Homo sapiens: one gene and its partners. The protein of the gene in region 1 purifies or fractionates together with the protein of each later gene. This does not show direct contact. Each region holds a gene or a part of one and is shown in the gene's direction. Other genes may lie near its edges. The genes, in order: ARHGEF26, MCCC1 and ACSF2.

The links.
Region 2: the proteins of ARHGEF26 (region 1) and MCCC1 purify together in Homo sapiens (affinity purification with mass spectrometry; one large-scale study listed by BioGRID and IntAct). This does not show direct contact.
Region 3: the proteins of ARHGEF26 (region 1) and ACSF2 purify together in Homo sapiens (affinity purification with mass spectrometry; one large-scale study listed by BioGRID and IntAct). This does not show direct contact.

The regions. Positions count from the first base shown.
Region 1 is NC_000003.12:154,127,890-154,131,389, forward strand, and holds part of ARHGEF26 (rho guanine nucleotide exchange factor 26), read left to right. Parts: intron 1-1,684; coding exon 1,685-1,830; intron 1,831-3,500. UniProt on the Homo sapiens protein: Activates RhoG GTPase by promoting the exchange of GDP by GTP. Required for the formation of membrane ruffles during macropinocytosis. Required for the formation of cup-like structures during trans-endothelial migration of leukocytes.
Region 2 is NC_000003.12:183,071,800-183,075,527, reverse strand, and holds part of MCCC1 (methylcrotonoyl-CoA carboxylase subunit alpha, mitochondrial isoform 1 precursor), read left to right. Parts: intron 1-3,040; coding exon 3,041-3,162; intron 3,163-3,728.
Region 3 is NC_000017.11:50,460,584-50,464,311, forward strand, and holds part of ACSF2 (medium-chain acyl-CoA ligase ACSF2, mitochondrial isoform 2 precursor), read left to right. Parts: intron 1-93; coding exon 94-289; intron 290-658; coding exon 659-787; intron 788-1,049; coding exon 1,050-1,103; intron 1,104-1,600; coding exon 1,601-1,719; intron 1,720-1,836; coding exon 1,837-2,002; intron 2,003-2,572; coding exon 2,573-2,668; intron 2,669-2,811; coding exon 2,812-2,969; intron 2,970-3,234; coding exon 3,235-3,326; intron 3,327-3,634; coding exon 3,635-3,711; intron 3,712-3,728. UniProt on the Homo sapiens protein: Acyl-CoA synthases catalyze the initial reaction in fatty acid metabolism, by forming a thioester with CoA. Has some preference toward medium-chain substrates. Plays a role in adipocyte differentiation.

The DNA.
Region 1 (3,500 bases):
GGTTTGTCATTGATCAAAACAATATTATGCAATGCGTGACTGTATTATGTTTCCTCTTATGTTCGCATTATAGCTTTTGTGTATGCTTTTCCTGTAGCTCTGTAGCTTCTCAGCTTTCAGACCTTAGACTTTCCTCATTGACCAAATATCTGACTGCCAGACTAGATCACACCCTACTGACAGTCTGTTCTCACCTCTATATAAATCCTTCAGTTTGTAGGTATGTATTTGTGTAAGATCATTATGTTCTCAAACTTATAGTGACTTGCCATCACATTTTGAGTAAAAATCAAAGTCCTTTAATGGCTGAGGCAAGGCCCTACATGATCAGCCCTCTGGTCACCCACAACTCCCATCTTCTTCTTCTTTTTTTTATTTTGAGATGGGGTCCAGTCTGGAGTGTAGTGGCATGATCTCGGCTCACTGCAACTTCTGCTTCCCAGGTTCAAGCAGTTCTTCTGCCTCAGCCTCCCGAGTAGCTGGGACCACAGGGGTGCACCACCACACTCGGCTAATTTGTTGTATTTTTGATAGAGGCAGGATCTCACTATGTTGCCCAGGCTGGTCTCGAACTCCTGACCTCAAGTGATCTGCCCATGTCAGCCTCCCAAAGTGCTGAGATTACAAGTGTGAGCCACCATGCCCGCCGGCCTCAACTCCCATCTTCTGTACTTTCCCCCCATTTCCTTGTACTCCAGCCATGCAGTCCTCCTTGCTGCTCTTGGTACATACAGACATACCAAGTAGACTCATGCCCCAGGGCTTTGCACTTGCTGTGTCCCTGATGAGATGCTGTTTGGGCACTAGTTCTTCATCAGAGTCAACATCAAGGGCCTTTTCTTTGTAGTTTTGATACAGGTGGCTCACTTTCTCACCTGTTCTATGTCTTTACTTAATTGTCACTCCAGTGAGGCCTTCCTAAACTACCCTACTTAACATCTACATGCCCTCCTCCCAGCGCTTTCTACCCCCCTTCCCTGTTTCATGTTTCTTCATGACACTTATCAGCATCAAAATACTATCAAAGTTATTTGCTTATTTATTGCAGTTCTCTCATGCTTTAGTATCAGCTCCTGAATATTGAGATTTTTAGTGTCTATTATTGTATTTCACGTGCTAAGCTGTTGCCGGTTCCTAGTAGGTGTTTTCTAAGTAACAGTTGAATGAATAAATGCATGAGTGAATTTGACAGTTTTTTTAATTAAACTGTTAGCTCATGAGAGGTGGATGAGGGCATGAGAGCTCATGAGGCATCAGAGGTGTCTTTCTTTTGTTTTCCATTTTACTCTCAGCCCTTGGCACGTCATAGATACACAATAAATGTTTATTAAATAGATAAATGAATGGTGATGGACCTTAAATAAAAGATAGGATGTAATTTAACCTAAATTACAGTGATTTAACAGGCCTGACTGTCCTTCATGAGTAGTGGACAGAGACATGGAAACTGCTTCTGTTGGCATTCTCTGTATGGGCTGGTCCCCTTCCCCTGCAGTTGAGTTTGAGATAGAGCTATGTGAATGAGAAAATCACTTTTCTGTAATTATTCTTCAGGGACTAAATCTGTTTGTCTCTCTGTTTATAAAATTGGAGGCCAAACATTGGGTACATATGATGTTTATTTAGAACAAGTAACATAATGATTGAGAACAATTAGTGACACATAGGCCTTGTTTTCTTGCAGAAAATGCTGTCCTGTATCAAAACTACAAGGAAAAGGCCCTTGACATTGATTCTGATGAAGAGTCAGAGCCCAAAGAACAGAAGTCAGATGAAAAAATTGTGATTCACCATAAGCCATTGAGATCCACATGGAGCCAACTCTCTGCGGTGAGTGTTTATCTTCTTTTCTATCTGTGGTAGGAAAAAAACAAGTTTTGGAAATTATGTGTGGATTTGGCTTTTGTTCTTTTCTGCCAGTGATCCTGTAACTAAGGAGAAAGACTCTTTTTAGATTGTGAAATGTTTCTCGGAACTCTGCCCGCACTAATGAGAACATGAACTTTGACACTTCTGATCAGGAAAATTAGGTTTGATAAAATAAAGTGCTATGAGATTGATGTACTGTGACCTCTGGAAACTCTTTCTGCGAGATCTCTCTTTTTGTTAAATATAGCCTGCACTTTATCATAATTATGGCTATTTACATATATATGCGTGTGTGTTTATGTATGTATGCGTGTATATGTACATGTATGTATGTACCTGTATATGTATCTCTGCACAATAGAAAGCTAGTTACAATTCTTCCTTGGAAATTTTTTTTTTTTTTTTTGAGATGAGGTCTTGCTCTGTCGCCCAGGCTGGAGTTCAGTGGCGTGATCTCGGCTCACTGCAGTCTCCCAGGTTCATGTGATTCTCCTGCCTCAGCCTCCTGAGTAGCTAGGACTGTAGGCGTGTGCCACCATACCCAGCTAATTTTTGTATTTTTAGTAGAGATGAGATTTCACCGTATTGGCCAGGCTGGTCTTGAATTCCTGCCCTCTAGTGATCCGCCTGCCTCAGCCTCCCAAAGTGCTGGGATTACAGGCATGAGCCACCGCATCTAGCCCTTCCTTGGAAATTTAATTTGATATAGAAATGTTTATATATTCTTAAAGCTGATTAATGAATGATATTCTGTTCCATCTCTGTGCCTTTTTTGTATGCCTGTCTCTGACACTTAATTTTGTGTTGATGAGTAATTTCTCCTCTCTGCATCAGACACCTTTTGTTTTTTAACTGTATATTTTTTTCCTCCTGGCTTACAATGTCACAGTTTGATGCTTAGTTTACTTGATAAGAGTTTGGGCACAGCATTTGCGAATATCTGATGAATTAGCAAGTAGAAAGGAATTCCCATGGCTGGCTTGGTTCAGGGGAGCTTTGCATCAAAAACAAGCCAGTACACCTCCATGAGTCCTTAGGCAATATCAGAGCAGAGGTGACAGAGATGTTTAGAATCAGGAATCTTGTGTATTTAGGGAACCCACTGGTGTAAGAAAAGGAGTTGTTAATGTTGGTGCTGTATAGCCAGGGCCGTGGGAATATGTGTATGTAAACGGTGGGAGACAACTTCTGCTTCAAGCTCTACCTTCCCTCTTCTAACCTGTATTGGAATTCAAAATTCAATACACCAAGCGCTTTCTCCCTGTCTTCTTCCCACCTCCTAATTTTGTTCTCAGGAGAATCTGTTCATTTCCAGGGCCTCTGAGGTATAGCACCCTTATGATTATGCCAAAAATTAAAATATTCACAGTGTCAGGGGAAGTAGAATGAATATGTGATGCTGGTATATGTAGGTGATAGGGAGTGGTGGGAGCTGTGGTGAACAGGCCTTATATAAATTGAGCAGCTACTACTTAGCTCAAACCAGGTGAGTGCAGGGGCTCAGTGTGACCAGATGTTCTGATAATTAGAAAAGAGAATGTACAAATCCAGACTTTTATGAGTATTTTCTCAACTCAAATTTTAAAGAAATGTTGTGTGTCCAAGAAAGTATTCAGATTTGCCCTCTATGC
Region 2 (3,728 bases), about 29 Mb from region 1:
CAGGCACTTCTCAAAAGAAGACATACATGTGACCAACAAACATGAAAAAAAGCTCAATATCACTGATCATTAGAGAAACGCAAATCAAAACCACAATGAGACACCATCTCACACCAGTCAGAATGGCTATTACTAAGAAGTCAAAAAAATAACAGATGTCAGGAGGTTGTGGAGAAAAGGGAACGCTTATACACTGTTGGTAGGAGTGTAAATTAGTTCAACCATTGTGGAAAGCAGCAGGGTGATTCCTCAAAGAGCTAAAAGCAAAACTGCCATTCAACCCAGCAATCCCATTACTGGTTGATACCCAGAGGAATATAAATTATTCTACCATAAAGACACATGTGCATGTATGTTCATTGCATCATTCACAATAGCAAAGTCATTGAATCAGCCTAAATGCCCATCAGTGACAGATTGGATGAAGAAAAGGTGGTACATATACACCACGGAATACTATGCAGCCATAATAAAGCATAAGATCACATCTTTTGCGGGAACATGGATGGAGCTGGAAGCTATTATCCTTAGCAAACTCCCACAGGAACAGAAAACCAAATACTGCATGTTCTCACTTAGAAGTGGGAGCTGAATGATAAGAACTTAAGAACACAAAGAAGGAAACAAAAGACACTGGGGTCTACCTGAGTGGGGAAGGTGGGAGGGAGAGGAGCAGAAAAGATAACTATTGAATACTGGGCTTAATACCTGGGTGACGAACTCTGTACAACAAACCCCTGTGACATGTATTCACCTGTGTAATCTTCACATGCACCCCAAACCTAAAATAAAAGTTAATAAAATAAAATTGAACTTTGGTTTAAAAGATATAAAACTCTAAACTGGCTGCAACATATGAGTATCCAGCATTTTATCTGTATCTGGCATTGCATTGTTTCCTGTCACTAGGATGTGGGTTTTTCTATTCGTATGAGTTTCCCAGATATGTGAAGCTTACCCCTTTAATTTTGAAATGTTCTTTGAGTGTAACTATTTTGAAACAGGATTGGCTGAACCTTTGTGTTTTTACATTGTTTTGGTCATAATTATAATACTCGCTCACATTTTAGAAGAACAAATCCCCTCAGGGCTACTGATGTTGGAGAGGGTGTGGCTTCATCACTCATTAAATCATCCAAGTCTTCTCTGCCTTTTGCCTCCTTCTGTTTCTTCCCTTTTTGCTGTCAGCGTGTTTACTTTTAGAAATCTTGCTGTCCTTCAGTTACTGAATTTCCTCTTCTGTGGGCTAAAATCCCAGTAAGTATGTTTGTTAAAATTCTGAGTACACTGGAAGTAACTAGGCTGAAGTCTGAGGGATGCCCTTTTCACTGAAAGTACACGTACAGTTGTCCCCTTTATCCACGGTTTTGCTTTGAGTGGTTTCAGTTACCTGCAGTCTACTATGGTGTGAAAATATTAAATGGAAAATTCCAGAAATCAACAATTGATAAGTTTCAAATTGCACGCCATTCTGAGTCACACAGTGAGATCTTGCACAGTCTGCTTTGTCCCTCCCAGGATGTGAATCGTCCCTTTGTCCAGTGTCTCCACGCTGTCTCCACTCCCCATCTGTTAGTCACTCAGGAGCCATCTAGGTTATCAAATTGACTGTCATGGTACCACCATGCTTGTGTTCAAGTCACCCTTATTTTATTTAAATCATGGCCCCAAAATGCAAGAGCAATGATGGTGGCAATTCACTTATGCTAAAGAGAAGCCATGAAATGCTTCTTTTAAGTGAAAAGGTGAAAATTCTCAAGGAAAGAAAAAAATATGTATGTTGAGGTTTCTTGGTTCTTGGTAAGGACCAAGTTTCTATCTGTGAAATTGTGAAGAAGGAAAAACAAATTCATGTCATTTTCCTGTTGCACCTCAAACTGCAAAACTTATGGCCACAGGGCATGGCAAGTACTTAGTTAAGATGGGAAAGGCATTACATTTGTGATTGGAAGACATGAACAGAAGCGTGGTCAAATTGGTATCAGTCCAGTTCTGTAGTATTCATAGTTTCAGGCATCCACTAGGGATCTTGGATAAGGGGACACTCCTGTAGACTTTAATACATGACTTTCATTTGCTTCTTAGCTTTTTTTCTGGAAAGATGACATTGATGACCTGAAGATAAGTGAGGTATTTATTGAGCTAGTGTTCTGTTTGGGGCTTTTGGATGCCATGATTTCAATTCTAGGCCAGTTTTACACAGAGACAGAATAGACAAATTCCCCTTACCACTCTGAAGCCCTTTACTTCTTGACATTCTACCCTAATTGCAATATTATTTTAAATTTAAGTATATAGAAACTTCTGTACCATATGATCCAGCAATTCCACTTTTGGTATACAGCTAGAAGAATTTAAAGCAGGGACTCAAAACAGATACTTGTATACCAATACTTGTTGTTCACAGCAGCAGTATTCACAATGTGTAGAAATAACACAATGTCCATCAAGAGATTAATGGATAAACAAAATGTGTACAAACTGGATATTATTCAACCTTAAAAACAAATGGAATTTTGATACATGTTACATGAATGAACCTTGAAAACATTATGCTAGGTGAAATAAGCCAAACTCAGACAAATTATTATACGCTTCCACTTACATGAGGTACTTTGGCTAGAGAAATTCATAAACAGAAAGTAAAATCCTGGTTACTAGGGACTAAGGAAAGGGAGGGAATGGAGAATTATGTTTGGAGATTAAAACATCCTGAGGATGGATGGTGATGACAGTTGCCCAACATTGTGAGTGTACTTAATGCCACTGAATTACATACTTGCAAGTAACTAAAATGGTCAGTGTTTTGCTATGTATATATTATCACAATAAAAAGAAATATAGATTCATCTGGTTTAGGTAAGCCTTCAGAGCTTTCATATGAATATTTCAGATATTTCTTTGGAAACAGAGTTTAATAGAGACCATACTATTACCAGTGTAGGGAGAGGCCTCCCAGAGGAAGACAGCTTCACCTGCATTAAGGTGTTGCCAGTTGAGCACTGATGAGTAAATTTTTTATTTTATTTCTCATTTCTAGGCTATCCATCCAGGATGCGGTTTTCTCTCAGAAAACATGGAATTTGCTGAACTTTGTAAGCAAGAAGGAATTATTTTTATAGGCCCTCCTCCATCTGCAATTAGAGACATGGGTATAAAGAGGTATGAGTTTATATCTTTTAAAATATAACTGTATGAAGGTCAGTTGAAATAGTTTGGGCCAGGCATGTGGCTATGCCTGTAATACCAGTGTTTTGGGAGACTGAGGCAGGAGGATAGCTTGAGGCCAGGAATTCAAGACCAGCCTGGGCAACTTAGTGAGACCTTGTCTCTCAAAATTCTTTTTTTTAAATCAGCCAGGCCTGGGCACAGTGGCTCACACCTGTAATCCCAGCACTTTGGGAGGCCAAGGTGGGAGGATCACTTGAGCCCAGAAGTTTAAGACCAGCCTGGGCAACACAGGGAGACCCTGTCTCTACAAAATTTTTTAAAAATTCCAGGCATGGTGGCACGTGCCTGTGGGTCCAGCATCTTGGGAGGCTGAGGTGGGAGGATTGCTTGAGCCCAGGAGATCAAGGCTGCAGTGAGCTGTGATCACACCATCATACTTCAGTCTGGGTGACAGAGTAAGACCCCATCTCAAAAAAAAAAAAAAAAATTCAGCTGGGTATGGTGACACACACCTGTAGTCCCAGCTGCTTAGGAGGCTGAGGCAGAAGGATCACTTG
Region 3 (3,728 bases), on another chromosome or scaffold:
CAGCCTACCCCCTGGCTTGGCTGGGTGTGCCATGCCCTTGGTTCCAGGGAGACTGATCTGGGACAGTCAAACCCATAGCTCCTCTCCCTACAGTTCCAGAGAGGTGGATCGCATGGTCTCCACGCCCATCGGAGGCCTCAGCTACGTTCAGGGGTGCACCAAAAAGCATCTTAACAGCAAGACTGTGGGCCAGTGCCTGGAGACCACAGCACAGAGGGTCCCAGAACGAGAGGCCTTGGTCGTCCTCCATGAAGACGTCAGGTTGACCTTTGCCCAACTCAAGGAGGAGGTGGGTCCTGACCTGGAAACCTCAAAGTGGGCAAGTACTAGCTCCCAAGCTGCCCTAGCTGGGCAGAACCAGGAGCGTGGGCACCTGGCTATGGGGCAATGTGCTAGGGCTGCCAGAGAACCCCGAGGGATGGCAGGAGAAGGAGACAGGACTGACGCACAAGGGGTCCAATGCCTCCTGTATCAGCAGCTCCTGGGGCACCTGTTAACTATGCAGGCCCCAGGGCAGACCCACTGAGGCTGGGAATCTGCCTGTCCCTTTGTCCCCAGTGACTGTGATGAGAACTCCGGGCTAAGGGCTGAGGGTGGGAGTCTTGGGCCCCTTCCTGCTTGCCCCCTTTCACCCCTTGCGCCCCATCTTTTACACTAGGTGGACAAAGCTGCTTCTGGCCTCCTGAGCATTGGCCTCTGCAAAGGTGACCGGCTGGGCATGTGGGGACCTAACTCCTATGCATGGGTGCTCATGCAGTTGGCCACCGCCCAGGCGGGCATCATTCTGGTGAGGAGGGGCTTGCTTGGCACAGCTTGGTGTGCATGGGGGAACATCACTGAAGGGGAGCCCCTCAGGCCCTCAGCCCCAGGATCAAACCAGTGCCTTGTTGGTTTCAAACCAGGTAGTGCTTTCTCCTGAGGCCCACCAAGGAGGTCTCTGGGAGTTAGGGGGCTGTAGAGTGCTGCCTCTATGCCTCCTGGGGGCGGAGGGGCAGCAGGAGGGACAGGGTCTGCCCAGAATACTGATATGCCCTCGCCGCTTCCACCAGGTGTCTGTGAACCCAGCCTACCAGGCTATGGAACTGGAGTATGTCCTCAAGAAGGTACAGCTCATTTGTCGGGGAGGGGCCCGGCTGGGGCCTGGCACAGGGGGCTGCACAGACTCTGCTTGTCAGAGTCTGACGGTGTGAGCTAGGGCATGCATAGGCGGGTGATACGCAGAGTGTCCTTCCTTAGGCCATGTGTGATTGGAAGGTGGCCCCAACTCCAAGGAGAGCGTGGTTGGTCAGACACAAACCTGGCGTGAGTGTGCAGGGACGGGGGCATGTGTGTGTCAGGGCAGAGGTGTGTGTGTGTGTGTGTGTGTGTGCGTGTGTCCATCCTCATATGTGATGCATATGTGTCTCAGGGTGTGGTGTGTGTGTCTCGGGGCTGGTACATGTGTGCATTTGTCTTGGAGTGTGGTGCCTGTGAGTGTGCTGGAGGTGTGTGTGTCAGAAGCGGGTGCATCTGTATGAGAGCAGCTGATTAGTGAGGACTCCCCCAGAGCTCTAGTCTGGGGCTCCCCGCTGACTGGAGGTGGGGGACTCCCCTTCCACAGGTGGGCTGCAAGGCCCTTGTGTTCCCCAAGCAATTCAAGACCCAGCAATACTACAACGTCCTGAAGCAGATCTGTCCAGAAGTGGAGAATGCCCAGCCAGGGGCCTTGAAGAGTCAGAGGTGGGTGTGTCCCAGGTTAGTGGGTGGTGCATCATTCAGCATCCCTGATTCCTTCACTTCCTACCCACCCTGCCCCCTCCCTCAGCCCCTGTCTCTCACCATCGTCCCCAACCCCAGGCTCCCAGATCTGACCACAGTCATCTCGGTGGATGCCCCTTTGCCGGGGACCCTGCTCCTGGATGAAGTGGTGGCGGCTGGCAGCACACGGCAGCATCTGGACCAGCTCCAATACAACCAGCAGTTCCTGTCCTGCCATGACCCCATCAACATCCAGTTCACCTCGGTAGGGCAGAGGTCTCCAGGCCCCAAGCCCAGATGGACACATGCCCCCTGTCCCTGTGACACTTCCGCGGGGATGGGGAGACAGCAGAGGAGAGCATGCCTTCTTTACTGAGACTGGCCTTCAGCTGTCCTCTCTGCCCTGGAAAATATCAGCACCTGGTGTCCTTGTCACATTTCCTCCCCTAGCCCCCCGCCCTCTCCACTCCAGCCCTCTTGTTCCCGGTGCAGTGGCAGATTCACTGAACCAACACAGGTTGGAACTGCTACAGGCTGCCCCTCATTTAGCTGATGAGGAATCAGAGACGCAGAAGAGAGAATTTGCCCAAGCCAGCTTGTGGGTGGCAGAGTTCTCTGGGCCATGTAAGTGGCATGAGAACGGAGACCTTATCTTCTGCATTGCTGGACCCTGACACCTGGTATCGTGGTAGACCTTTTGCAAATATACTGAACAGATGGATCTGGGGCAACAATCCCTGTCTCCTGATTCCCGGTCCCGTGCTCTTCAAGGCAGTGGCCCAGGGTGGGAAGGAGATGAGAAGGAGGCCAAGCCATGCCCTGTTTGCCTTGTCAGGGGACAACAGGCAGCCCCAAGGGGGCCACCCTCTCCCACTACAACATTGTCAACAACTCCAACATTTTAGGAGAGCGCCTGAAACTGCATGAGAAGGTGAGGCGGCACTAGGCCCAGGGCAAGGCTGCAGGAGGGGTGGCTCAGGCAGGGGTGGGGGGCTGGCTGGGCTCCCCTTGCCAGCTAGAGAGGAACTGGCGTCTGGCTCCAAGACAGACCCAGCCTCCTGTCTCCATCACCAGACACCAGAGCAGTTGCGGATGATCCTGCCCAACCCCCTGTACCATTGCCTGGGTTCCGTGGCAGGCACAATGATGTGTCTGATGTACGGTGCCACCCTCATCCTGGCCTCTCCCATCTTCAATGGCAAGAAGGCACTGGAGGCCATCAGCAGAGAGAGGTGGGCACTGGTGGACAGGCTACTTGTGGGCTGATAAAACCCTCTTCTTCCTCACTCCTGGGCCCTGACACCTTTCCAAGCTGCCTCCTCCCTCCAGCCAGGAGACTGAGGATGGGGACAGTGGAGGACCCCCAGGAGAGGACCAGTTCCTGCCTCAGGAGCTTCTCCTGCCTATTCCCTTTGCTGCAGTTTCATGGCGGGGTGGGTGAGAACAGGGAGTTCCCTTCCACTTCCAAGCCTAATTTCGAGACCTCCTCCTATACAGAGGCACCTTCCTGTATGGTACCCCCACGATGTTCGTGGACATTCTGAACCAGCCAGACTTCTCCAGTTATGACATCTCGACCATGTGTGGAGGTGGGGTGGGGCCAAGGGCAGCCAGGCTTGGGGAGGGGGCTGCTTCCCCCACAGGAATGGCCCGGGTGAGTTAGCTATGCTCCCAGTCTTTTATATAGGGGGCAAGAAGGACGCTGTAAAAATGTGGGTGGGAGGGAGGGAGATCCCCAGTGTCCCTGGACACCAGCCCAGGGCCAGCTGCCAGGTGTAGGAAAGGCTCGGGGTCAGAGGAGAAAAGGGAATGTTCCTCCCCTGAATGAGCTGTAGGTGAAAGGACTCCACTGGGCCTGGAGAATTGGGGAGCTGTGTCAGCCCTCTCTCTGATTCAGGTGTCATTGCTGGGTCCCCTGCACCTCCAGAGTTGATCCGAGCCATCATCAACAAGATAAATATGAAGGACCTGGTGGTGAGTGGTGACTGCGG